2 separate regions of the Homo sapiens genome follow, and region 2 is linked to region 1. Evidence: fine-mapped expression QTL. A gene starts in region 1. The other region holds a variant in brackets. All regions are shown on one strand. Distances are between the middles of the regions.

Region 1 (14,274 bases):
ACAAGACAGGGATGCCCTCTCTCACCACTCCTATTCAACATAGTGTTGGAAGTTCTGGCCAGGGCAATTAGGCAGGAGAAGGAAATAAAGGGTATTCAATTAGGAAAAGAGGAAGTCAAATTATCCCTGTTTGCAGATGACATGATTGTATATCTAGAAAACCCCATTGTCTCAGCCCAAAATCTCATTAAGCTGATAAGCAACTTCAGCAAAGTCTCAGGATACAAAATCAATGTGTAAAAATCACAAGCATTCTTATACACCAATAACAGACAAACAGAGAGCCAAATCATGAGTGAACTCCCATTCACAATTGCTTCAAAGAGAATAAAATACCTAGGAATCCACCTTACAAGGGACGTGAAGGACCTCTTCAAGGAGAACTACAAACCACTGCTCAAGGAAATAAAAGAGGATAAAAACAAATGGAAGAACATTCCATGCTCATGGGTAGGAAGAATCAATATCATGAAAATGGCCATACTGTCCAAGGTAATTTATAGATTCAATGCCATCCCCATCAAGCTACCAATGACTTTCTTCACAGAATTGGAAAAAACTACTTTAAAGTTCATATGGAACCAAAAAAGAGCCCGCATCGCCAAGTCAATCCTAAGCCAAAAGAACAAAGCTGGAGGCATCATGCTACCTGACTTCAAACTATGCTACAAGGCTACAGTAACCAAAACAGCATGGTACTGGTACCAAAACAGAGATATAGATCAATGGAACAGAACAGAGCCCTCAGAAATAACGCCGCATATCTACAACTATCTGATCTTTGACAAACCTGACAAAAACAAGCAATGGGGAAAGGATTCCCTATTTAATAAATGGTGCTGGGAAAACTGGCTAGCCATATGTAGAAAGCTGAAACTGGATCCCTTCCTTACACCTTATACAAAAATCAATTCAAGATGGATTAAAGACTTAAACGTTAAACCTAAAACCATAAAAACCCTAGAAGAAAACCTAGGCATTACCATTCAGGACATAGGCACGGGCAAGGACTTCATGTCTAAAACACCAAAAGCAATGGCAACAAAAGCCAAAATTGACAAATGGGATCTAATTAAACTAAAGAGCTTCTGCACAGCAAAAGAAACTACCATCAGAGTGAACAGGCAACCCACAAAATGGGAGAAAGTTTTTGCAACATACTCATCTGACAAAGGACTAATATCCAGAATCTGCAATGAACTCAAACAAATTTACAAGAAAAAAACAAACAACCCCATCAAAAAGTGGGTGAAGGACATGAACAGACACAGGAACACTTTTACACTGTTGGTGGGACTGTAAACTAGTTCAACCATTGTGGAAGTCAGTGTGATGATTCCTCAGGGATCTAGAAACAGAAATACCATTTGACCCAGCCATCCCATTACTGGGTATATACCCAAAGGACTATAATTCATGCTGCTATAAAGACACATGCACACGTATGTTTACTGCGGCACTATTCACAATAGCAAAGACTTGGAACCAACCCAAATGTCCAACAATGATAGACTGGATTAAGAAAATGTGGCACATATACACCATGGAATACTATGCAGCCATAAAAAATGATGAGTTCATGTTCTTTGTAGGGACATGGATGAAATTGGAAATCATCATTCTCAGTAAACTATCGCAAGAAGAAAAAACCAAACACCGCATATTCTCACTCATAGGTGGGAATTGAACAATGAGAACACATGGACACAGGAAGGGGAACATCACACTCTGGGGACTGTTGTGGGGTGGGGGGAGGGGGGAGGGATAGCATTGGGAGATATACCTAATGCTAGATGACGAGTTAGTGGGTGCAGCGCACCAGCATGTCACATGTATACAAATGTAATTAACCTGCACATTGTGCACATGTACCCTAAAACTTAAAGTATAATTAAAAAAAAAAGAACAGAACGTGCTGGTTTTCTCCTGATGGAGAATAAAAGTGAAAGCTTGAAACTCTGGAGACTAAGAGCAGAACCTGTCCCCTCATCATGAATATCTCAAGATCTGTGTTCCCCTAGCCTCCAAGTCCCAGGCCCATCCCCCTGTCATCTGTCAGGTTCTTAGAGGTGAGCAGTGAGAATCCACAGGGACAGGAATTACCAGTGTGCCAGGCTTGAGCTCCCCCACTGAAACCACTTATGGGACATGAAAGGCCCAACTCAGGGTGAAGGGTGACTCCCAGCGGCTGGCAGGAGAGGGAGGAAGGGGAAAGAGATGCAAGAGAACCAGATACAAAACACAAATCCCAAGGCACTACATCACCACAGGTCTTTAAAAACCTGGACATCTCTGGAAACATGACTGAAATGACATGCTGCAGACTACATGCGTCTTGGAACTGACTGTGGCTGATCCTCCATCTCATGCCTCCACAATTCAGCCTCTCTGGAAATGCTCAGGCTCCTTGTGATACATTAGTCAAAGAGATGTGAGGGTCACAAGGACACCGTCTAGAGCTGCGTGACCTGAGGTTATAGCACATGCGCACAGACTTACGCACCCACGCGCACGTGCGCACACATACACACACACACACACGCACACACAGAGCCTGGCTCCCATAGAGGCAGCACCTCAATGAAAATTGCACATTCCTAGAGTAAACCAGTGTACGCAGCAAATAGACGAGCCTGGGAGGCAGTGGAGGGGTGGACTTACCTATGAAAAGACCAAGGAGGAGCAACAACCATGGTAGAGAATGGGCCATAAAGTGCACCTGCAGAACTGCTTGTCACATGGCAGCAGATGACGGACTATGCATGCGTAAATGTCAGCCTACTACCAGTTCCTGTTTTTAGTGTCACCACTTTAATCACATGTAGTTTATGTGTCACAAGATATGAAGATGAGCGGACGCAAAAGAAAGAAGGATGAGAAGCGCCTGAACGAGCTACTTAAAAGCCAACGCCGGTGACATCACAGCCTTGCTTTAAACCCCTCGGGGGTGTACCACCCCCACAAGGCTAAAGTCCGGGGTCAAAGTCCTTGTGGACAAGGCCCTTCATGATTGGCTTGTGTCTTGCCAACCTACCTGGCCACACTCTGTCACCAAGTCTCACAGCTTGGACTCCAGTCACCACAGACTGCTTCTAAAGCAGTCCCCTTGGGATTTCTCATTTTTGTAAATGCAGCTCTACTTCCTCAGGCCATCTTACTGATTGGATTGCCCTAGTCTCTGTCATCTACCTCACCCTAACACCCTCCTATTGCCCATCTCCAGTCATCACCACCTTGGGAAAGGCCTCCCTGAAGCCCCAGGCTAGGATGGTGCTAGGACATCCATTCCCTCTTGCTGTTGGACATCAGGCCTGTGGTTATGGGTCAGGACACTTGTACTACCAGCCTCCCAGTTCTCAGGCCTTCTGACTCAGACCGGGACCTACACCACCAGCTTCCCTGGTACTCCAGCTTGCAGTCACCAGATCATGAGACTTCTCAGCCTCCATGATCATGTGAGCCAATTCCTATTAAAAGAGAAAAAAGGAAACAATATATATATTCAAGGTGTGGTTTCTCTGAAGATCCCTGGCTAATACAACTGCCTGTGGCATTTGACACTTGAAATACTCTCTCCTCCTGGACGCCAGGATACCGTTCCCCCCGGGTTCTCTTCTCTCCTTCACTCAATGCATATTCGTTGAGTTCCTGCTAGGTGCCACAAAAGCTCTGTGCTAAGGACTGGGGATACAGAGATGAAAGGAAGTGTCTGCAACCGTGTTGCTTACAGTCTAGTGGGAAAGAAAATTTATGTCAATAAAAAATAAAGTAATGCAGGTGGTTTTACTTTCTGGTTGGGTACAGTGTGTTGGGCATGAGGCTTTCTGGTTTGAATACTGCCTCTGCTGCTTGCTAGTTGTGTGACCTAGGCAAACTACCTGCCAATCAATGAGAGTTAGGAGTTCTCCTTTATAATTTATTTCCTTGAAGATGGTTTTTGCACATAAAAATTTATTCATAGGCCATATTGCTTTTAAGAACTCATATTCAATTTATTAAATAAATAAATTTAAAACCTAAGTCAGCCTTAAGTTCAGTTCAGCTTACAAATCTTACTGTTCTGCTTACAAATTAGGCAAATTTTAACTACCCTTCTTGAGGACTATTAATAAGATTTAACTCATGGCCAGGCATGGTGGCTCACACCTGGAATCCTAGCACTTTGGGAGGCCGAGGCAAGTGGATCACTTCGAGCTCAGGAGTTCGAGACCAGCCTGAGCAACATGGCGAAACCCCATCTCTACAAGAAATACAAAAATGAGCCGGGCATGGTGGCTCATGACTGTGGTCCCAGCTACTCAGGAGGCTGAGGCTGGAGGATCGCTTGAGCAGGGAAGTAAAGGTTGTAGTGAGCCGAGATCGTACCACTGCACTTCAGCCTTGGTCACAGAGCAACATCCTGTCTCAAAAGTAAAATAATAATAATAATAATAATTTGACTCATTTTACAAATTTATAAGTTGATTCCCTTATTATTCTAACTTATAAATGTAATATATTTAGTTTTGTTTTAAAGTATTTTAATCAGCAAATAAACTTCCCAAATACTTAAAGGCTTGTAAACCTAATACATTAAACTTCTAAGTGTGGTCATTCTTAAGTTGTCTTAAATTATTCAATTCTTCATGTAAATTAAGATTTCCAACTAAAATCACAAATGCACAAATGTAAATCAATTGCATAGTTTAAATCAGAAACACAAATATCTCAGTTCATTCTGGCTGCTATAACAAAAATATCTTAAACTGGGCAATTTATAAGTAGTGGAAATTTATTTCTTATGGTTCTGCAAGCTGGGAAGTCCAAGATCAAGGTGCCAGCAGACTCTCGGTCTGGTTAGGGCTCACTCTGTGCTTCCAAGGTGGGGCCTTGTTGCTGCATCCTCCAGAGGAGATGAACACTGTCTTCACATGGCAGAATAGTGGAAGGGCAAGAAAGGGCCAGATAACTCTTTGAAGTCTCTTTTATAAGGGCATTAATCCCATATATGAAAGCAGAGTGCTCATGACTTAATCATTTCCCAAAAGGCCCCACCTCTCAATACTATCGCTTTGGGGTTTAAGTTCCAACATATAGGACAGGCACAGTGGCTCACACCTGTAATCCCAGCACTTTGGGAGGCCGAGGCAGGTGGATTACCTGTGGTTGGGAGTTCGAGACCAGCCTGGCCAACATAGTGAAACCCTGTCTCTACTAAAAATACAAAATTAGTCAGGTGTGGTGGCACGTGCCTGTAGTCCCAGCTACTCGGGAGTCTGAGGCAGGAGAATCACTTGAACCCAAGAGGCAAAGGTTGCAGTGAGCTGAGATTGCACCACTACACTCCAACCTGGGTGATAGAGTGAGACTCCATCTCATTAAAAAAAAAAAAGTTTCCAACATATGAATTTTGGAGGGACAAATACATTCAAACCGTGGCAACAAAGTTTACTACAATTTTAATGAACTAAATTTCCTCAAACAATACATATACTTAAAAAATACTAACTGATTACCTTGAACATGTCTATTTTGTATTCCTTATTTTCCCAGGATTGAAAGATTCATAACCACAAAAGAAACAATTATGTCATCCCATTTACAGCCATTTCCTGGGGTACCTTCTCAATTAGCTAAAGTTGCTTAATGACCAGAAATATCACTGACATGTTAACTAATGGTATTACCAGCACCCCTTTTTTTTTGAGGTGGAGTTTCGCTCTTGTTGCCCAGGCTGCAGTGCAATGGCACAATCTCGGCTCACCGCAACCTCCGCCTCCCAGGTTCAAGCGATTCTCCTTCCTCAGCCTCCCCAGTAGCTGGGATTACAGGCGCGTGCCACCACACCCGGCTAATTTTGTTTTTTTGTTTTTTGTTTTTTTTTTTTAGTAGAGACGGGGTTTCACCATGTTAGCCAGGATGGTCTCGATCTCCTGACATCGTGATCCGCCCGCCTCCGCCTCCCAATAATTTTGTATTTTTAATAGAGACAGGGTTTCTCCATATTGGTCAGGCTGGTCCTGAGCTCCTGACCTCACGTGATCTGCCCACCTCGGCCTCCCAAAGTGCTGAGATTACAGGCGTGAGCCAATGTGCCCAGCTGGCAGCACCACTTTTTGCTTGTTTTGTTGCTACCCTCTAAAAGGCTGGTCTCATAGCCTATATCCCTAGATTCCACTTGAACACTGTGACATTCCCTAATTCTTCCCTCTACTGTGGCTGCAGCAGTTGATTTGATGTTGAATTTCTTTAGCTCCTAACATATATTTGTCTTTCCATCTAAGTGTAAAAAGCTTTGAGCTTGTCAAAATTCTACAGTCTTTCATATTCTTCCAATCTGTAGTAGCATATATATACTGCAAGTCAAGACAACATTAGAAATAAAGTCCAAAAAATGCAATTGTGTAAAATGCAGGGTCGTCTTAATTGCACAGTGAATGAAGTGTTGGTTGGGGGCTGGTGGTGAAGCAACACAGCTGAGTATGTGGTTGTGGCTGCCAGACCCAAATCTCAACCCAGGCTGGAGTCTGATGCTACCTGGAGGCAATGCCCAGTTGACAGGGGTGATTCTGGGCCTGTAGCTGGCGGGACTCCAAGGACAGTAGCAGGGATTTCAAAAATTTTCCAGTCAGTCACACCCACTTGCTGGGGTGGTTGAAGTATACTGAGAAGGACAACACTGGAGACGCCGGGGCCAGCATCACTGGATGTTGCTCCCTGATTCCCAATGCTAGTGCCTTTGCCTCCCTGTCCTGATGAGAATATTAGCCCTCCCCATGTGAGGACAGGGCACACTTAACAAATGCATCATACCAAAATTTATATTAATTTAGGTTTTACTATACTTAAATGATAATACTTAAATTGGATTTTGTGTATTATAAGGCTGTGTCCTCCTATGGTCACAACTTCAAAGGAGGTCATTTCAGTGATGTTACTTTCCTAAATCTCAGTTTTCTCATCTCTAAAATGGGGATAATTGGAGTATCATCCAAATAGGGTCTATCTTAGGATTAAAGGAGAAAACATATGTAAAGTTCTAAACACAGAGGCTCACTCATAGTAATTACCCAATAAATGTTAGTAATGATTTTTATTATTACCAATCTCTCTGAATTCCCTTCTGCCTTTGCCCTCGCCTCCCATGCAGACTGTTCCTGCTCTCATGTTCTGTACCCAGACTCCTTCAATAGCTTCCGCACCTGTCTTCTCATCCCCAGGCTCATCCCTTCCACCCATTCTCCCTCCACTCTGCAGCTCCAGGAAGCTTCCTACTCCTACTGGATTCTTGTTGCCTTTAGCTTGGTAACAGGATGCTTTATCTGGGCTCTGGTAACCTCTCCTGACCGTATGTCCTGCAATCCCCTCTAGACAGCCCATGTTCTAGTCACAGGACCAAGGCTAGAGTGAAACAAGACACGCTCCTAGTGCACAAAATTTAAAGATTTTCGAGATTCTGTCACTTTCAATATTGTGCAACATCAGATCATGACCAGCCTCTAAAGATGCTTTCCATGGACATAAGCCTGTTATCTTAATGGTTTCTCTCTCTCTCTCCCTTCTTCCTTTGAACCCAGACTTCCTGGGTTCAAGTCCTTACTAACTATAAAACTTATAGTAAGCTATTTAACCCCTCTCCACCTCAGTTTTCTCATTTATAGAATGGGGATGATAAAAGATATCTCATAAAACTATTGTAAGATCAAATGAGTGAATATGTTAAAGTGTCAGAAGATGGACTAGCACTCTGTAAGCTTTCATCGAATATTAGCTAAAACTACACATTCTGCCAGCCTCAAGTTTTCCTGCCAAGTCCCCTTAATGTTACAGCCTAAGTAAACAAATGACCTGAAGCCCGAAACACAAACCATAGCATGGCCAGCTATTACGCTACTGACAAGAAGAAGGAGGAGAAAAAGACAGTTTCCCAAGTCAGGATATAGGGAATCATGCCATTCTCCAGCCTACCTTTTCAACTCAGTCACCTCTACGCTGTCACATACGATGTCCACCCCCATTGCAGTCTCCCTGATGCCTTTGTCCATATTAAAAGTCCTTCATTGCATGTGACAGAAAGCTAGCACAAACTGCCTTGAGCAAAATAGAAAATGTATTGGGTCACTGTATTAGTTATCTGTTGCTGTGTAACAAATTGCCCCAAACTTCACAGCTAAAAACAATAAGCATTTTTGATGAAAAATAAAAAATTGAAAAAAAATTTAAAAACCAAACATTTATTATCTCACAGTTTCTCTTGATAAGGAATCTGGGCATGGCTTAGCTGGGTGCCTCTGGCTTAAGGTACTCACACAACTAACATCACGGTGTCAGCCAGGGCTGCAGTCATTTCAAGGACCTCCTGGGGAGGATCCACTTCCAGTCTCACTCATGTGATTCTTGGCTAGCCTCAGTCCTCATGGACAGTTGGCCAGAGGAATCAGCTCCTCGCCGATTGTTGGCTGGGGGCCTCCCTCTGTTCTTTGTTTTGGAACCCTCTCCCTAAAGTATCTCACAAAACAATACCTGGCTCCCCTCAGTGTAAGGTAGGGAGACAGAGATAGTGGGAAAGACAGAGAGGGAGAGAGGGCAAGAGAAAGAGAGAGCGCATATGCACACACATGCTAACCCAAGATGGAAGTCACAGCTTTTTTGTAACCTAATCTCAGAAGTGACCCATCCCACATCTCTGCCACATTCTATTCACTTGAAGCAAGTCACTAAATCCAGGCCACACTAAAGAAGAGGTGATTACACAGAGGCATGAATGCCAGGAGGTACAGATCTTTAGCAGTCACCTTTAGGAGCCAAATTTAGAACCCAAGTCCCTTGATGTCAAAGCAAGTGATGCTCCACATCAGTCACAAATGAGGCCCTGAATAGACTTGGGACCTCTACCTGCCTGCGCAGATGGGAGGAGTCTGTGGTGTTTTGTATAAACAACCCTCCCTCTGAGACACACACACATACACATACACATGCACACACACACTCATATACACATGCAGAAGCTGTGACACGTGCGGAAGCTGTGGTAAGTGCATCCTCCTTCAGTCTCAGTTCTGAAAATAGATCATCATGGTGGCACCAAAGAGTCACACAGATGACTGGGCTCCTGGGCCTTTCTCCAGTAAGCCACAGAGGAGTCAGCTGCAAATATTCTCTTCTGTTCTACAGACCTCTCTCCTCTTCCTGCTCATGGGTAAGTCCACTTTATGGCCACCACTTCTTGCTACTGCGGTTCTTCTGAGGCCAGTTGCATTCCCTGCCTGGGAGATTCTTTTTTTTGTTTTTTGTTTTTTTTAACGGAGTCTCACTCTGTTGCCAGGCTGGAGTGAAGTGGCGCAATCTCGGCTCACTGCAACCTCCACCTCCTGGGTTCAAGCGATTCTCCTACCTCAGCCTCTTGAGTAGCTGGGATTACAGGTGCATGCCAACACACCCAGCTAATCTTTGTATTTTTAGTAGGGGCAGGGTTTCACTATGTTGGCCACGGTGGTCTCGATCTCTTGACCTCGTGATCTGCCCAGCTCAGCCACCTGAAGTGCTGGGATTACAGGCGTGAGCCCAGTTCTTGTTGGTAAAATCGGGAAACTCATCTCCTTGCCAGAAATTACTTTGCATGTGTGCATATTCGTGCACTATGAAGGGGGTAACATTCTAGCCCCGGTCTCAAATAGCTCTGGGCTCAAACTACATTTCTCTTGCCCTCACATTTTCCTAAGAAATGCCAAGTATATAATGAGTTTGTTCCCTGTATGGTGTGGATAAAACCCACAGAGGGATCCAGGAAAATCCCCTGATGAGAAGCCACCTAGCAATTTCCTAGGGATGGAGAGAACTTCTGGAGCTTCTTTCTATGTATCCTGCCTTGGTTATCATATATGCTGGCTTTATTACTGAGGTTTCACTGGGGACCTGGACGCGGTTAGGTGACCATGGGCAAGGTGGCGTTTATCTGGATATCCTTTTCTCCTCAACCTTATTCCTCCCTATCAAGGCCCAACTCCTGGGAAACATCTCTCCGCTGCATGGCCCGGAACCCCACTGTCCAGCAGATAGAGCCAATCCAGTACCCCAGAGAGGATCTCAGCCACCTGGGACTGTGGCAGCTACTGTCCTTCTGTGCTCCCGCTTTCTCCAGGGCTTCAGGGATGATGGTGCAGGTAGCACTAGAGATCTGAGAGCAGTGGGGGTTGGCAGTTGGTGCCTGAAGGGAGCTTTAGAAACACTCCTAGATGCAGATATGGGTGAACGAGGAGCCTAGACCTCAGAGCTGAGGTCCAGTCTGACCTCTTTTCACTTTCAATTTTATCTTGGCTCATCAAAACACACAGAAAGCAGCAAGGCTGTTTATGTTTACCTCCAACCTTTGGGGTGTTCCTTGATTGTGTTGAGCAAACCTGAAATAAGCTACATTCAAGGTCATCCAAGCCGCAAATGATCAATGCAGTGAATTTCAAACAGTTCAGAGCAAAGAGGCATCTCCATTGGTCTGGCTCCACTGATTAGGATGACCTCAAATCTCACTCTTTTGGTCTGAAAGGATGATGCTTTTGTATCTCCAAAGAGTCATTTCAGGAACTTAAAAGGCAGTCGAGTGAAAAGACCCCTCTCACTTTAGTATCAGGAACATCTGAAATTAAATCATTGCTCCATCATTTATTAGTGATGAGGGCCTCTATTTCTTAAGTGTAAAATATAGTTAGTAGGATGCATCATGCAACACTCTTACAGATTGTAGATGATCTATACACACACACACACACACACACACACACGTATAGTGGCACATAGTTGGCAGAAGCTATGATTGTTATTATTATAATTACTGTTACGTGCATTCTTTGGAAACTATTAAGAGACAGGTGAGTCAAATTCAGTTTTGCAATCTTTGAATGCTCTTTTATTATTTGTCCTACGGTGCAATTCAAAATAAAATGACTGGTACTGGGGACCTGTCATTGTACTGGGAGCTGCATTGCACTGTCTTCTGCAACAAGATTTGCCCTGTGAGGCCCACATCCTGCCCCCTCCACTGAGAGTCTGTGAGGCTTTTGTTTATGGTTTTTGTCTGATGTAAGAAAATTTGAAGTCAAAACGAGTCATATGCACCCAGTCAAGACCCAGCAGCTCCTGGGCTTCCAGGATACAGATGGGCAGTACTCCTGGCCTCCCTACTCCAGGGGCATCATGGACATAGGATCTGGACTCTGTGACTGATCAACCCTGTAATCTCAGGGAAGTGGATTAAATTCTCTAAATTTCAGCTCCTCATCTGTAAAAAGGGGCTAATTATAGTATAGTTATGAGAATTAAATGAGATAATTTACATAAAGTACCTAATGCACACATAGCAATCGTAAGCAGTCTCTTCCAGATGGGAAGAGCTCTCTTTTAGAAAACCTCAAACCAACCTCACATCAACTCAGCCTGAATCTGCCTAAAGAATCCACCTGACCCAACCTTCTCATGTCCAGGATCCCTAGCCCTGCATGCTCCATAGCTGCCTCTCCACAAGGTGCAAGTGCTTGGCTGATGGAGGTCTAAGCAGAGAACCCCCATGACCTGCACCAAGCAGCCTCTCTCCTTCCAGTGTCTGCATATTCTGTATCCTCTGGGTTTTCAGAGCTTGCTTCAGCTTTCTTCCGCCCCTCCAGGCTATGCTTATGCTCCTTTTTTGTCTCTAACATTTTCTACTTATTTTCCCACCCAGAATTCCTGGTGGAGTCTGGGTCCCAAACCCATCTGTTTTGGTCTAGAATTTCAAAAGTGCTCTCCAGAGCCTCGGAAGCCCTGGAATCTGGGAATCCAAGCTAGGGTCACCCAGAAGACACCCACAGGGTCCCTACAAGAAAATTAACTGCCTTGGCCAAATACCAGCTTCCTAGATGCCTTGGTAACAATGTTTATCAGGAATATGATCTTGCCTAAGATGAGGAAATCAGGAACTGTATTAGTACCACCAGCTATTCCCACCCCCAAACCTGGCCAAACCAAAGTCAATCTGAGATGCCATGGACAATAAGGGTGAGGTAGAGGTAGGAGAAGCTCCTTTAGTTCCCGACACTGCTATGAGAGTTCTCAAACATTCAGAAAAGTTGGAGCATTTACCCTGAACATTCATAGGCCTACTACCTAGATTCTAACACAAACGTTTTACTTTGCTTGCTTTATCACTCGCCTGCCCATCTAACCATCCCTCTACCCACCCATATTTTTAAAAATATGCTCCTTTTTACTTCATTGGCTCTTCACAATTTGCAGCAACCTGCTTTCATTTCATTTTTACCATATCCCTTGAAGAAAATGGTGCAGGTATGAGCATTTCAATCTTTTAGATAAGATTCACTGAAAAATTCAGAAATGTACCCAAAGTCACAAGGCTAATTCCTCTACTGGAACAGAAACCCAGAAGATCTGTTTCACAGATTGTTGTGGCTGCTTTTAAGGGAGACAGTGTTTGGGGAATGGAGGAATTAATGACTGTGCTAGGCAATTGACCTAGAAGAAGGAGGACAAGAATCTCATTTCATTTCTCAGCATCTGACATTTATGCCCAATGTATATTCACAGAGTGAAAGAAAGAAGGCTAGCTCAAGGAGTCTAGCTGCTCCTCCAAGTCCCTCTTCTATCTCTGCAGGACTAAGAGCCTCTGGAAAGGACTCAGCCCCAACAGTGGTGTCAGGGATCCTAGGGGGTTCCGTGACTCTCCCCCTAAACATCTCAGTAGACACAGAGATTGAGAACGTCATCTGGATTGGTCCCAAAAATGCTCTTGCTTTCGCACGTCCCAAAGAAAATGTAACCATTATGGTCAAAAGCTACCTGGGCCGACTAGACATCACCAAGTGGAGTTACTCCCTGTGCATCAGCAATCTGACTCTGAATGATGCAGGATCCTACAAAGCCCAGATAAACCAAAGGAATTTTGAAGTCACCACTGAGGAGGAATTCACCCTGTTCGTCTATGGTGAGTTCCAGAGAGCTTCTGTGTTTTGATCTTTTCTTTTTTTTATTTGTGCAAATTTATGGGGTATGTGTGAAATTTTGTTATATGTATATAGTGCATACTGATCAAGTCAGAGTTTTCAGTGTGTCTGCTGCCTGAGTACAATATATTCCTGTTAAGTATAGTCACCCTACTCTGCTATCAAAAATTGAATTGATTTTCTCTATCTTACTGTATGTTTGTACCCTTTAACCCACTTCTCTTCATCATCCCCCCACCACCCACTCCCCACACTCACCCTTCTCAGTCTCTGCTATCTATCTTTCCACCATCCACTTCCACATGATCAAAATTTTTAGTACCAACATATAAGTGAGAACATGCGATATGTGTCTTTTTGTGCCTAGCTTATTTAACTTAAGATAATGACCTCCAGTTTCAGCCACATTGCTGCAAAAGACATGATTTCATTCTTTTTTATGGATTTTTAAATTGTTTAAATATATTTAGGGGGTACAAGTGTAGATTTATTGCATGCACATATTGCATGCTGGGGAAGTCTGGGCTTTTAGTGCACCCATCACCCAAAGAGTGACCATTGTACTCAATAGATAATTTTTCAGCCCTCACTCCTCTCCCACCCTCCTACCTCTTGTAGGCTCCGCTATCCATTATTCCTACTCTGTATGTCCATGTGTACCCATTGCTTCCACTTATAGGTGAGAACGTGTGGTATTTTACTTTCTGTTTCTGAGTTATTTCAGCTAGGATAATGGCCTCCAGTTTCATCCATGGTGCTGCAAAAGACATGACTTCATTCTTTTGTGGCTGATTAGTATTCCATGATGTGTATAAATACATGTATGTATGTGTATACTGCATTTTCTTTATCCATTCTTCCGCTAAGGGACACAGATTAATTCTATATCTTTGCTATTGAGAATAGTGCTGCAATAAACATACAAATGCAGGTATTCCTTGCATATATCAATTTCTTTTCTTTTCCTTTGGGTAGATATCCAGTAGTGGTATTACTGGATCAAATGCTAATTAAATGTTTAGTTTTTTGAGAAATCTTCATATTGTTTTGCATAGTGGCTGTACTGGTTTCCATCCCCACCAAGAGTGTCTAAGATTTCCCCTTTTCTCCACATCCTGCCAACATGTGGTTAGTGTTTAAATAACAGCCATTCTGACTGGAGTGAGATAATATCTCATTGTGATTTTGATTTGTATTTCTCAGATAATTGGTGATATTGAGCATTTTTAATATATCTGTTGGTCATGTGTATGTCTTCTTTTGAGAAATGTCTGTATCCTTTGCCCACTTTTTAATAGAATTATTC
Region 2 (13,312 bases), 27 kb after region 1:
CGGTCCTTCTGCACTGAGTGTCAGAAGGGACTAGGAGGCCAGGTGCGGTGGCTCACACCTATAATCCCGGTACTTTGGGAGGCTGAGGCAGGTGAATCACCTGAGGTCAGGAATTTGAGACCAGGCTGGCCAACATGGTAAACCCCGTCTCTACTAAAAACACAAAAATTAGCTGGGTTCGGTGGTGGGCGCCTGTAATCCAAGCTACTCTAGAGGCTGAGGCAGGAAAATCGCTCGAACCCCAAGGGGCGGAGGTTTCAGTGAGCCGAGATCATGCCACTTCACTCCAGCCTGAGAGAAAGAGCAAGACTCCGTCTAAAAAAAACAAAACAAAACAAAACAAAGGGACTGGGAACTCACCAACCTGCATTTTTAAATTTTTGAGATGGAGTCATGCTCTGTCACCCAGGCTGGAGTACAGTGGCACGATCTCAGCTCACTGCAACCTCTGACTACCAAGTTCAAGGGATTCTTCTGCCTCAGCCTCCCAAGTAGCTGGGACTACAGGCACACGCCACCACAACCAGCTAATTTTTGTACTTTTAGTAGAGATAGGGTTTTGCCATATTGGCCAGGCAAGTCTCAAACTCCTGACCTCAGGTGATCCGCTGCCTCAGCCTCCCAAAGTGCTGGGATTACAGGCATGAGCCATGGCACCTGGCCCCAACCTGCATTTTTATAAACTATTATCATTTTGAATAAGGCCAAAGTTGGCTGGGGTGAAATCAGAGAAGACTGAGGAGAAGCCCTTGGTGTCCAAAGACACTGTGGCCTCCAAGAAGGTGGGCCACTCAGTTCCCCTGGGGGTGAGGAACAGAATTTGCATTCTACCTCCTCAGCCCTGGGCCTCACAGGAGCTTGGCTTGGCAATTTGCATGGTTTATGTTTACCTGTTCCTTCACTTGTGCCATTCAGACATGGTCAGCATACCCCCTGCCTGAGTTTGTCAATGTCTAGGTATCTGTGAAGAGTCACTATCATGGTTTTGTTAAAATATGAAGCAAGTCGGCCAAGTCCATGCCTATTGCACACAATGCCTCAAATATAAAGGAACCCACAAGGTTAAGTAAAAATAATAAACAGGAAACAAATAGAGTCAGTCTTATTGTTTCTTTTAAAGTTGCTAACATTTATTGAACATTTACTCTGTGTCAGGTACAGCGCTCACCTCTCTGCATCCCTTATCTCATATAAGTAAACAAATCAGCCTCAAAGCCAAGCCTTGAAGGGTCTTCACAGCACATGGAAGTGTTGCGCTCATCTGTGTTGATTGGTTTGCTTGCTTTCACAGCTGTAACTAACTGTATAGAATGAGGTTGTGTCTTTCTTTCTTCACTTTTCATCATTTCCCTTGTTTCTCACCTGAGCATCAAGAGGCAAAGAGGTGTGTCTGAGATGTCACAAGTAGTGAGGAAAATGCCAGGTATACTCCAAAATTCCTGTGGCTCCTGGAGGCACTTTGCCGGCAGTATCAACACTCAGCTTCATGAATATATTTTCAATGAATGAAGACAGGTGACTGCTCAGGGGGCAGGCCTGATTCCACATGGAGTCTGCCTCTCTCCTCACAGGCAGGCTGAGGAAGCCCAAAATCACGTGGAGCCTCAGGCACAGTGAGGATGGCATCTGCAGGATCAGCCTGACCTGCTCCGTGGAGGACGGGGGAAACACTGTCATGTACACATGGACCCCGCTGCAGAAGGAAGCTGTTGTGTCCCAAGGGGAATCACACCTCAATGTCTCATGGAGAAGCAGTGAAAATCACCCCAACCTCACATGCACAGCCAGCAACCCTGTCAGCAGGAGTTCCCACCAGTTTCTTTCTGAGAACATCTGTTCAGGTTTCTCTCCATCTCTATTTACTCAGGTCACAGGACCTTGGGGCCTCCAAGAGTTTGCATCCTGACTGATTCTTTATGAAGTGCAGTAAGAGGCTGTGGGTGAGAGCCCTTTAGAGTGGCATGCTTCCACAGATATATGAGAGTCACGCATGTGATTTTAATGTTCTAATAGCCACGTTAGAAAAAGCAAGAAGAAATAAAGTTATTTTAATAATATGTTTTATTTAACTGAATATATCCAAAATATCATTATTCAACGTGTATTCAATACAAAAAAATTCATTAGACACTACATTTTATTTTGTACTAAGTCTTTGAGAGCCAGTATGTATTTTACACTTAGAGCACGTCTCGATTCCGATGCTAAATTTTCACTGAAAGTGTTTAATCTATATTCAGACTTCGTAAAATTTACAGTTGAAAAAATAGATTTATGCACCCAAGTTATTCCAAGCATATTTATCAGTTTTTCAAGAAGGAATTGAGTAGCCATTTTTAAATTTAAACTAAAACTAAATAAAAGAAGCAATTTGGTGTCTCAGTAATACTAGCCACACTTCAAGGGCTTATGCATAGCTTGTGGCTACCATATTGAACAGCACAGAGTTACAGGCTTGTGGAGAAAAGCCAATAGGAAGCTGATATGGAAAGGGATGTGGACCACACAGGAACAAAGGCTGCGTGAGTGGGAGCTAGAAAAGAAGCCCCAGTGGCCCTTAATAAATGCTAAGTACTATTCTAGGCCTTCAGGCATTTTTGCACAATCTTCGCAACAATCCTACAGAGTAGATATTCTCGTTTTTCCCCTTTATATGGATAAAGAAACTGAGGCTCAGAAAAGATAAGGGACTTATCCAAGGTCACACCATAAAAGCTGGTTTCGAACCCTGAGCTCTATCTTCTGCTCTTCCGTAGAAGGAAGCAGAAAAAAGGTACGGTCTACCCAGGATCTGACAATGTTGGGTCAGATTGTGTCTGGCAGACAGATCTAGAGTCCAGCTTAACAGGAATCTGGAACTCCCCTCATATCATTTACAGCGGGGCAGTGTAATGTGGCGATTAAGGGCGCTGTAGGATCTGCACTCGAACCTCAGGTCAGACACTTGAAACACTGTGACACTGGGCAAGCCGTAAACCTCTCTACCCAGGGACTGTCTGCCTCAGGTACTGCTATAACCTCTTGCCTAGAGTAATGCTTGCTCGAAAAATGGTTGTAGAATGAATGAAAAGAAAGACTTTCCACAACGTCATGGATTTTAAGGGGCAGGTAGGATGGCCATCATGTTCTGTGCATTGTTTGCTCCAGTGTGTCTTGTCATTATTTGAATTAACATCACTCATTTCCTCCTCAAAGGACCTGAGAGAAACACAAAGCTTTGGATTGGGTTGTTCCTGATGGTTTGCCTTCTGTGCGTTGGGATCTTCAGCTGGTGCATTTGGAAGCGAAAAGGACGGTGTGAGTTTCCGAGATCAATGTTGTCCGCCAGTGCTAGGCCATTTCCCTGGGACTTGTGGAGGCTTCTCTGCCCTCACACAATCCCGTGCTACCCCTCCCTGCCAGCATCTTATTTCTTCTCAGAGCAATGGGGGAGGGGTGTCAGTTGGGACTCTTTACTCACAAATAATAGAAGCCCAGTTCAAACTGGCTTAGACAGAAAAAAAAAGGCATGTGGGAGCAGGGAGAGTGATTTATTATTTTTTCACTTAAATAATCAATCTGTGGGGAAGGCAGGGATAGAGCTGGCATAATGGAGAAATGTCACCAGAGGCTCAAAAGTCATCAGAGCTCTCCACCTTTCATCTCTACTGTGTATTTTGAGTCAGCTTAACTCTTCCTACTGCAGCCCGCTGAGGGAAGGGGTGGGAGCGAGGGGAGGAGTGTACCACAACACAACAGCTGGCAGCTCCAGACCCACACATACTAACAGCTCCGACACCAGACAGGGAAGAAAATGTGCTTCCCTCTAACTCCAATTTAAAGAATGTCAGAAATAGCTCTGATTGGCCCAAGTTAAGGTCATGTGGCTGCTGCTTGGACCAATTTCTATAGCCAAGAAGATACACTATTATGATTGGCAGCTCCTCTAGAATCCCAGTATTGGAGTGGAAATGAAGTAGTAGCCAAAAAGAGCAGAATGGGTAGAACACATGGGGTCCCTGGAAGAATTACTGAATTGCAGGCAAACTACTCTGATCAGTGGCTATGGCAGAGGAGCTCTCTCTTCTGGAGGGATGGCAGGAAGCTCCAGAGCCTCCACCTCTGCAGAAAGTAGCCCTAGACTCTGGCCACCCCTTCACATAGGCCTGGCTTCTCATCAGGGTTCATCCTCCTTCCTGAAGCCTTTTCCCTGTCTATGTCCCAGAAGTCTCTCCCCTTCTCATTTGACTCTCACAGAATAAAAGACACCTCTCACCTCACAGCCCTCTTGATAAACCTTCTCTAACTTTGTTTCTCAGGTTCAGTCCCAGCCTTCTGTTCCAGCCAAGCTGAGGCCCCAGCGGATACACCAGGTAACATCACCCATGACACAGGCTATGGGGTATCTGGTCCAAATGGAAGTTCTAAAGTCTTGCTGCTCAAAGTGTGGTCTGCTGGCCAGCAGTGTGGGCATCACCCAGGAAACTTGTTAGAAATGCAAAATCTGACCAGGTGCCGTGGCTCACACCTGTAATCCCAGCACTTCGGGAGGCTGAGGCAGGTAGATCACTTGAGGCCAGGAGTTCAAGACCAGCCTGGCCAACAAAGTGAAACCCTGTCTCTACTAAAAATAGAAAAAATTATCTGGGCATGGTGGTGCACGCCTGTAATCCCAGCTACTCGGGAGGCTGAGGCATGAGAATCTATTTAACCTGGGAGGTGGAGGTTGCAGTCAGCCTAGATCACGCCACTGCACTACAGTCTGGGCAACAGGGCAAGACTCTGTCTCAAAAAAAAAAAAAAAAAACAGAAAGAGAAAGAAAGAGAGAGAAAGAAAGGAAGGAAGGAAGGAAGGGAGGGAGGGAGGGAGGGAGGGAGGGAATCTTGGGCATCACCCCAGAATACTGATTCCAAACCTGTATTTTAACAAGATCCATAAGTGATTCATATGCCTACTGAAGTTTGAAAAGGAAGGTAGCATAGAAACAAAAGCCAAGATAGACTCCTTAGAGATGGTCACCAGAGCTAGGAGAGGCAGTCTGTCCCCCAGGGTCTCTAGGGTTCCTTGGGCATTAGCCATTCACCATTTGAATGTGGACTACAATGAGGATGGAGTTATTGTCTCCATTCTGAGAACAGAGAAACAAAGGCCAGATGGAACAGTACATCTGTGGTAGAAAAAAATTTAAAACTTAATTAAAATTAAACTTCAGGAGACTGTACAACCTATTACCTAAGAGCATCGTGGGAAATGGAACTGCTCTGACAGGTTTTAGTGTGGGGAGCTGAGATGCCTGCCTTTACTCCCCCACTCCCATGCCACAGTGTCCTAAAATTTCACCTTAAACTCTGGAGCTCTGGAGTGCTAAGGAATCCCCAACCTGTGCTCACTCTAACCAAATCCTGCTTTAAAAAATAAATAAATAAATAAAAAATAAAACTATATGTCACCCCTCATGGCAGGGATTCCCCATGGAGATGGAATCAGAGGCAGGACTGGGCAGGGAGCATGTGACGATATGGGCTCTTCTGATGGAAAAGCATAACCAAGAGACAGGGGGCAAGGAAGGGAATTAGGCTGGACTATGAAGCTCCCCATCAGCTCCCTCCTCACTACTGACAGGACAGAGCCCTGGTGTCCCCCTGCCTGAACCCTCCTTCCTTGGGCAGAGGGTAAAGAGATGTTGGGGCCACCACCACCTCCCTACCTCTTCTCTCCCCCAGAACCCTTCTTGAACCTCCAAGGCCTGCTTCTTTAACCTCTCCAAGGTCTCCTCTTCCCTAGATCCACTGCCACTGCCTTAGTTCATGTTGTCACCAATTTGTTGTTTAATTGAATAGTTTTTTTTTTTTTTTAATTCAAAAGTCAGACTGGGCACGGTGGCTCACGCCTATAATCCCAGTACTTTGGGAGGCTGAGGCAGGTAGATCACCTGAGGTCAGGAATTCAAGACCAGCCTGGCCAACATGGTGAAACCCCGTCTCTACCAAAAATATAAAAATTAGCCAGGCATGGTGGCACATGCCTGTAATCCCAGCTACTCTGGAGGCTGAGGCAGGAGAATCACTTGAACCTGGAAGGCAGAGGTTGCAGTGAGCTGAGACTGCACCATTGCACTCCAACCTGGGCAAAAAAAGTGAAACTTTGCTAAAAAAAAAAAAAAAAAACCATATATTCACATGGCATACAGTTAAAAGTAGTTCTCTTTCCAAATTCCATCTCCAGGTTCTAAGTCTCTCCCCCAAGAGACAACCACTGCTGAGATTTCTACAGACCTGAATCCTTTCAGAAACTTTTAATGCATTTGCAGGTTTCATACATATTTGTGTGGGGAGGGTGTTCCTTTAACTTCACATATGGGAGCAATCTATAACACTTTTTTTCTAAACCTTGCTTTTTGATCTTAACAGTACATCCCAGCAATATTAATGTTTGTAGATTAAAACTGATTCCCATTTATTCCATTCTACACATTTGTTTAACTAATTTACTTTACCAGTCCTTATTAACAGACATTCTCATTCCTTGTTACTTCTTTCCTAAAATATGCTAATAGTTTCTTTGCAGACTATTTCCTCTCATCACTTTGCCAAGCTCAACTCTGACTTCTCTAAAACCCTCAATAGCCCCTAATGGCCTTTGTCTGTTCAAAAGGCGATATAACCAAGTGGTCAAGTGTATGGGTTCTGAGGTAGGATAACCCTGTGCTCAAACCCTAGCTCTCCTCCTTATGAATCCCTAAGCCTCAGTTTCCTTACCTTCCAAAATGAAGGTATCTATTTTCACTCAGTATTGAGCGAAAGAGAAAGAGGGGCCAGCCGGGAGGGGGCAGGATTGAGCAGCGGTTAAGAGCATCAGGGACAAGACTAGCTGTAGTCAAATCCTGGCCCTACCACTTACTCGGGAAAATACTTAATCTTTACGTGCCCGAGTTTCCTCATCTACAAAAAATAAATACGGATAGTTATTGTCTATGCTTCATGGGGTTTTAGGCAGACTAAATAAACTTATTCATGAAAAGCATTTAGAACTGTGCCTCGCACACGGTAGGCACTTACTAAATATGAGCATCAGGTCAAATTGAAGGGGCTATGTTGTCTGAGATATAAACTCAGGGTTTGTCCTCGCGTGCCGGGAAAGTTTAGGACACAGACACACAGGAGGAGTTTAGGAGCGGACGTTCAATAAGTAGAAGAAAAGAAAAAGAGAAACAGCTTCCTCTATAGAGGAAGGGGTCTCAGAGGGGTGGGGACCGGCTGCTGGTGAATGCGCTGAGTTCTATAGTCCAGTTTGAGGAGGCGGTGTCTGATTTACCTAGGGCTCACAGATTGGTTCGATAAGGCATGACGTTTACGTAGTGCCTGGGAAAGGCTGGTTGCCGCACCCTAATCTTCTTATGCAAATGGATTTTCCAGTTTATTGGCACCATCTTATCTGCTCCTTTCAATACAGTGGCTGGCAGGGAAGGGAAGATGGAGCCGCCATTTTGAAAATGTCTATTCCTTAGTCCCTGCTGGTGTTCACCCATGCAAGCTCCCAGCTTGCAGGCTGCTCTTTGTTAGAAAATGATTTGGGGCTGCTTTTCAATAAAAAGAAAAGCCTGACCAAGGACTCCCATATCCTTACTATCTGCCTAAGTAATTTCTTCTTAACTCCTGTATCAAAATGGGCTACTTCATGTGCCCCACAGGCAGGGTTGACATCCACCCAGTGTGCCATGACAGCGTTCACAGCATATCCACCCAGTGGGCCACACCGGCCCTCACAGCGCATCCACCATGCCACTGTTCACAGGTGCCCATGCTGATTGCCTAAGGCCTGACCATTGCAATTGTTAAGTATTTTTAATATCATCCTTTCGGAAAAAGAGACTGCTCCAGGCTTTACACCTGCCTCTAATCATGCTGTTCCCTCCTCCACCTAGAATACCCTTCCACTCATCGAAATATTGAATCCCTATTCAAGACCCACCTCAATTCTGCCACTTTCATGAGTTCCTCTCTGCTTCTCTAACCAGAGTCATCTCCTCTCAACTCTGCACTTTCCTCATACGTTCCATAGGATACTTGGCAAAGCTGGCCTTACATTACTGATTTACACATGCACCTGACTCCCCAGCTAGACAGGGTGCTCCTCCAGGGCCAGGTCTAATTTACCTTTGTGTTTCCCCAGAGTACCTGCAATGATGCTTGGCATGGTTTATCCCACAGGGCCAGAGAGTTGCTAAAGTCTATCACATGTCATATTTAATATTTATCAAATGAATGAATAAATGAATGCTTGAAAGGAAGGAGGAAGGGAGAGTGGAATGGACCCCCTGAGGGAAGACAGGACAAAACAATCTCCTTCGGTTCTCTAGGCCTCATCTAATGCAGGCATCAGAGCAGGCTGGGGCCTTGCAGCAAAGCAAGAAGAGAGGTGGGGTTGGCATACTTTTATCAGCCCTGCACAATGTGTTCCAGAACCCACAGCTGGCCACACGCTATACTCTGTGCTCTCCCAAGGATATGAGAAGCTGGACACTCCCCTCAGGCCTGCCAGGCAACAGCCTACACCCACCTCAGACAGCAGCTCTGACAGCAACCTCACAACTGAGGAGGATGAGGACAGGCCTGAGGTGCACAAGCCCATCAGTGGAAGATATGAGGTATTTGACCAGGTCACTCAGGAGGGCGCTGGACATGACCCAGCCCCTGAGGGCCAAGCAGACTATGATCCCGTCACTCCATATGTCACGGAAGTTGAGTCTGTGGTTGGAGAGAACACC[A/G]TGTATGCACAAGTGTTCAACTTACAGGTGAGCCCTTCTGATCAATACACCTTCCTCCTCCTCCCATGTCTAGCGGCATCTGAGATCCTGGATGACTAGTTCCTCCAAACTGGGGGCTGGGGCCTGGAAACAGGACTAGGGGCATACGGGCAGGGACTCATGGCTGTGTCCATGTTTACCAAACCTTGGGATCCTGTGGAACGAGGGACTTGTCCCTCAGCTCTCATTCTTGGGCCACTAATAAGGAAGGTGTTGGAGAACCAGAGGCACCGTCCCCACTGCACTAAGGCAGCTCCCACCCTGTGTGTGAGATGGGAAGCCAGGGGGTATCCCCTCTCCTCAAGGGTTGAGGGTAAAACTGAAAAGCTCTCATGTGGTCACTAGGGCTCATCTGCTGTTGGTGTGTTACAGGGAAAGACCCCAGTTTCTCAGAAGGAAGAGAGCTCAGCCACAATCTACTGCTCCATACGGAAACCTCAGGTGGTGAGAACTACATTCTCTGTATCCCAAGGCCCACAGAGTGAGGAACTATTCCTTAGACCCTTTGAACTGAAAATCCGAGATTCCCATGGCTAAGGATCTTAAATTCTACCCACTATGCACCCCTCAGATACATTCCATGGTCAACAGAGATGCATAAACAAATATTCCTGACATCTGTGTGACCAAAGGCTGAACATTTCTAATTGATTTAATAATATCTTATGTTGGTTATTTTTAACACTGACCTGAATGACAGCTTATACACTCAAACAAGGTAGGGTCTTTATAGCTTTTTAAATCTATCTCTAACCCTAATCCTAATCTACCTAAATGACAACTTCTCAAAACCATTGAAAATTAGCTAACAATTTAACAACAAGAATTTTTGGAAAATACACCACCACCTACAGTACATTAGTTTTATTCTAGTGTTTAAAAAAATCCCAGCCGGGCGCGGTGGCTCATACCTGTAATCCCAGCACTTTGGGAGGCCAAGGCGGGTGGATCACAAGGTCAGGAGATGGAGACCATCCTGGCTAACATGGTGAAACTCCGTCTCTACTAAAAATACAAAAAAAATTAGCCAGGCGTGGTGGCAGGCGCCTGTAGTTCCAACTACTCAGAGACTGAGGCAGGAGAATGGCGTGAACCCAGGAGGCAGAGCTTACAGTGAGCCAAGTTCGTGCCACTGCACTCCAGCCTGGGCAACAGAACAAGACTCCATCTCAAAAAAAAAAAAAAAAAAAAAATTCCCAGCCTGGGCAACATGGTGAAACCCTGTCTTTATAAAAAGTTCAAAAAAAATTACCCAGGCCTGTGGTGGTACACACCTGTAGTCCCAGCTACTTAGGACACTTAAGTGGGAGGACCGCTTGAGCCGGGGAGTTCAAGGCTGCAGTGAGCCAAGATCATGCCACTGAAATCTAGCCTGGGTGACAGAGTGAGACCATGTCTTAAAAAAAAAAAAAAATCCCTTACAGGTAGAATTTATCATTAAATAATCATAATGATAATAATAACTGACTTGCTTTTATATGAAGTTTTGCAGTTACAATACCTTGATACACATTCTTCTTTGATCTTTGTAATACTTCTAGAAAAGTGTTGTCATCCACATTTTATAGCCAAAGAAACAGATTCAAGGAAGTTAATTTTGCCTAAGGTGACAAAGATAGTACTTGGAAGTTCCAGTATTAAGAACCATGAGGCGTTTTAAGATCATCCTGAGTAATCTTAAATAATTCACCTTGATCTGGCTGTCCATTTCATTTTCACTTTCCTGAAAACATCGTGTCCATTCATACTTTTGCTTTCAAATCTCCCCCAAATTCCCTCCCTATAACATATTCAAAAAAATATTTTTTAAAAAACTCTCGGCTGGGCGTGGTGGCTCATGCCTGTAATCCCAGCACTTTGGGAGGCCGAGGCAGGTGGATCACCTGAGGTCAGGAGTTCAAGACCAGCCTGGCCAACATGGTAAAACCCCATCTCTACTAAAAATATTAAAATTACCTGAATGTGGTGGCAGGCACCTGTAATCCCAGCTACTCAGGAGGCTGAGGCAGGAGAATTGCTTGAACCCAGGAGGTGGAGGTTGCGGTGAGCAGAGATCACACCATTGCACTCCAGCCTGGGCAACAAGAGCAAAACTCCATCTCAAAAAAAAAGAAAAGACTACAGTTGACCCTTGAACAATTCAGGGGTTTAGGAGTGCCAACCCCACCCCACTCCATGCAATCAAAAATCATTCTATAACTTTGACTCTCCAGAACTTAACTACTAACAGCCTACTGTTGACCAGAAGCCTTACCAAAAACATAAACATTTGATTAACACATATTTTGCATGTTACGTGTATTATATACTGTATTCTTACAATAAAGTAAGCTAGAGAAAAGAAATTATTAAGAAAATCATAAGGAAGATAAAATATGTATACTATTCATTAAGTGGAATTGGATCATTGTAAAGGTCTTCATCCTCACCTTCACATTGAGTAGGCTGAGGAGGAAGAGGAAGGGTTGGTCTTGTTCTTTCAAGAGTGGTAGAGGTAAAAGAGGTAGAGGAGGTAAAAGGGGAGGCAGGAGAGGCAGGCACACTCAGTGTGATGTTTATTGAAAAAAAATCTGCATATAAGTGGCCATGCAGTTCAAACATATGTTGCACTTATGCCTGGTGTTCCATTATTGGAACACTAAGCGTGTAGGAGTTATTTATATTCTACTGCTCAAGATCATCACCAGGGTCTGATTTTTCACTCATGCACAAATTCAAAAAATTGCAACCTCCTGCGTAAATGGGTTAAAGTTACTTGACTACTTAATAAATTGTATGCACAGTTCCTAAGGGTTTTTCAGAAGCTGAAGGTGGGGGATATCACTGCACTGTGGTAAAGAGGAAACACATCATGAAAAAGGAATTTGGGTTGGGCCTTAAAAGATGGATAGAATTTGCTCAGTAAACACTTGTTGGGATGTGTGGTTTGGTTCAACCATCATCCATCTCATCCTGACTTCTAGACAGTAGTCTAATGCTTAGCCAGCTAGAGACTTTGCCTTGGAACCTAAGGCCAAATCTGTGCTGTTCACTGCATTCCCAGAGCTGCTTTCTACTCTGGCCTGGCCCTTTGTGTTTGGGTCAATACCGGTCAAACTTAAAGTCAGTCCCTGCTCTGAGTTTCAGAATGACCACCACATGTCTGGTCAGTCCTGCAAGGCACACACACTACCCTGGAGACTGAGACCCCTGAAACCACCTCACTTACAGTGTAAGTTGAAATCATTGCATTTCCTGAGCCAAACTCTTGACAACTATATCTTTTGTCTTCAGAATTGTCAGGACCAGGAATTCTGGTTTTGGATCTCTGAAGGCCATTATTGCCTACTTGATCTGGAAATTCTCAAACCTACTTTAGTTCTTATTTCTGATATACCTCTCTGTACAACATCTCAAAGGTTTATGCTATCCCCAAGCTGTTGCTGGTACCCAACCTCCCGCTCCTCTGGGTCAGCACAGAGCTTATCTGCTCTTTAGAGCCTTCCCTGAACACTCTCAGACAGGGAAGCCTAAGAACCCTTGGGAACAGCTTGGGGACTAATGGTCTGGACCATTACTTTGGAACTTAACCTCTGCCATCTAAATTATCTTCTTATAAATGTTCGTTTTGTTTCTCCAGCTAGGGCAGAGATTGGAATCATTTGACAGTAGCTTCGTGAGGGCAAGCCCCTTCATTGTCATTTTTTTATCCCCTGGATTTGCTGCACTAAACTGTCTTGTGTTGTCCTTGCAGAGAGTCCAGCCCACAGCCTTTCCTATTAGGAGCCTCCATAAATGCTTGGCATCAGGCTGGTTGATTGCGCCATCCCTGGGCCAGCACATATGACTCTACTTCTGTAGGATGGACCAGTCATAGCCTGGCCTTGCCTTCCTCTTTCATCAGCCTCACTCTTCCAAGGCTTTATTAACCATATTCTTTTGTGGATTTTTGGCTCACAGGTGGTGCCACCACCACAACAGAATGATCTTGAGATTCCTGAAAGTCCTACCTATGAAAATTTCACCTGAAAGGAAAAGCAGCTGCTGCCTCTCTCCTGGGACCGTGGGGTTGGAAAGTCAGCTGGACCTCATGGGGCCTGGGGCTCACAGACAGAAGCACCTCAGAATTTCCTTCAGTGCCTCAGAGATGCCTGGATGTGGCCCCTCCCCCTCCTTCTCACCCTTAAGGACTCCCAAACCCATTAATAGTTCAGACACAGGCTCCTTCTTGGAGCCTATGGGCTTCAGATGTCTTTGCCCCATTTGTCACCTCGCACACTTATAGCGTTTCCTCCTCGAAATTCTACCAAGACTGGTCAAATGTTGCTGAGGGGCCTGGACCAGCTGTCCTTTACACCACCTTCTCAACACTGCTGAAAAGAACCCAAGAGAATTGTCACACATGACACAAGATGTACATAATATCATGCTCACTGCAGTGTTATTTAAAATAAAAGGCAGGAAATAACCTAAATGTCCATTCATTCAGTGAGAATCCAGTTACATATATGATTATATACCCATGCAACGGCAAACCCTGCCGCTTG

The links. PIP is the estimated chance that this variant, and not a neighbour inherited with it, causes the effect. A credible set is the group of variants that fine-mapping cannot tell apart.
Region 2: its variant is the best candidate, but not a certain one, in a credible set for the expression of LY9 in blood mononuclear cells (TOPMed, PIP 0.56).

What each region holds. Positions count from the first base shown.
Region 1 is chr1:160,787,134-160,801,407 of GRCh38, forward strand. It overlaps LY9 (lymphocyte antigen 9), which reads left to right and starts at 9,041. Exons shown (of 10, transcript NM_002348.4): 1 at 9,041-9,178; 2 at 12,620-12,949. The coding sequence starts at 9,055. LOC105371470 (a long non-coding RNA gene) reads right to left here and starts at 2,729. Exons shown (of 3, transcript NR_188636.1): 1 at 2,662-2,729. RefSeq lists a silencer at 2,296-2,488 and enhancers at 2,819-2,938, 2,989-3,058, 3,089-3,208.
Region 2 is chr1:160,815,023-160,828,334 of GRCh38, forward strand. It overlaps LY9 (lymphocyte antigen 9), which reads left to right. Exons shown (of 10, transcript NM_002348.4): 5 at 1,572-1,841; 6 at 3,196-3,297; 7 at 4,299-4,352; 8 at 8,443-8,774; 9 at 9,159-9,227; 10 at 12,726-13,233. The coding sequence ends at 12,794. Among named protein-coding and RNA genes, the nearest start is that of LY9, 26 kb to the left of the region's middle. The variant A/G (reference allele first, on the strand shown) is at 8,748.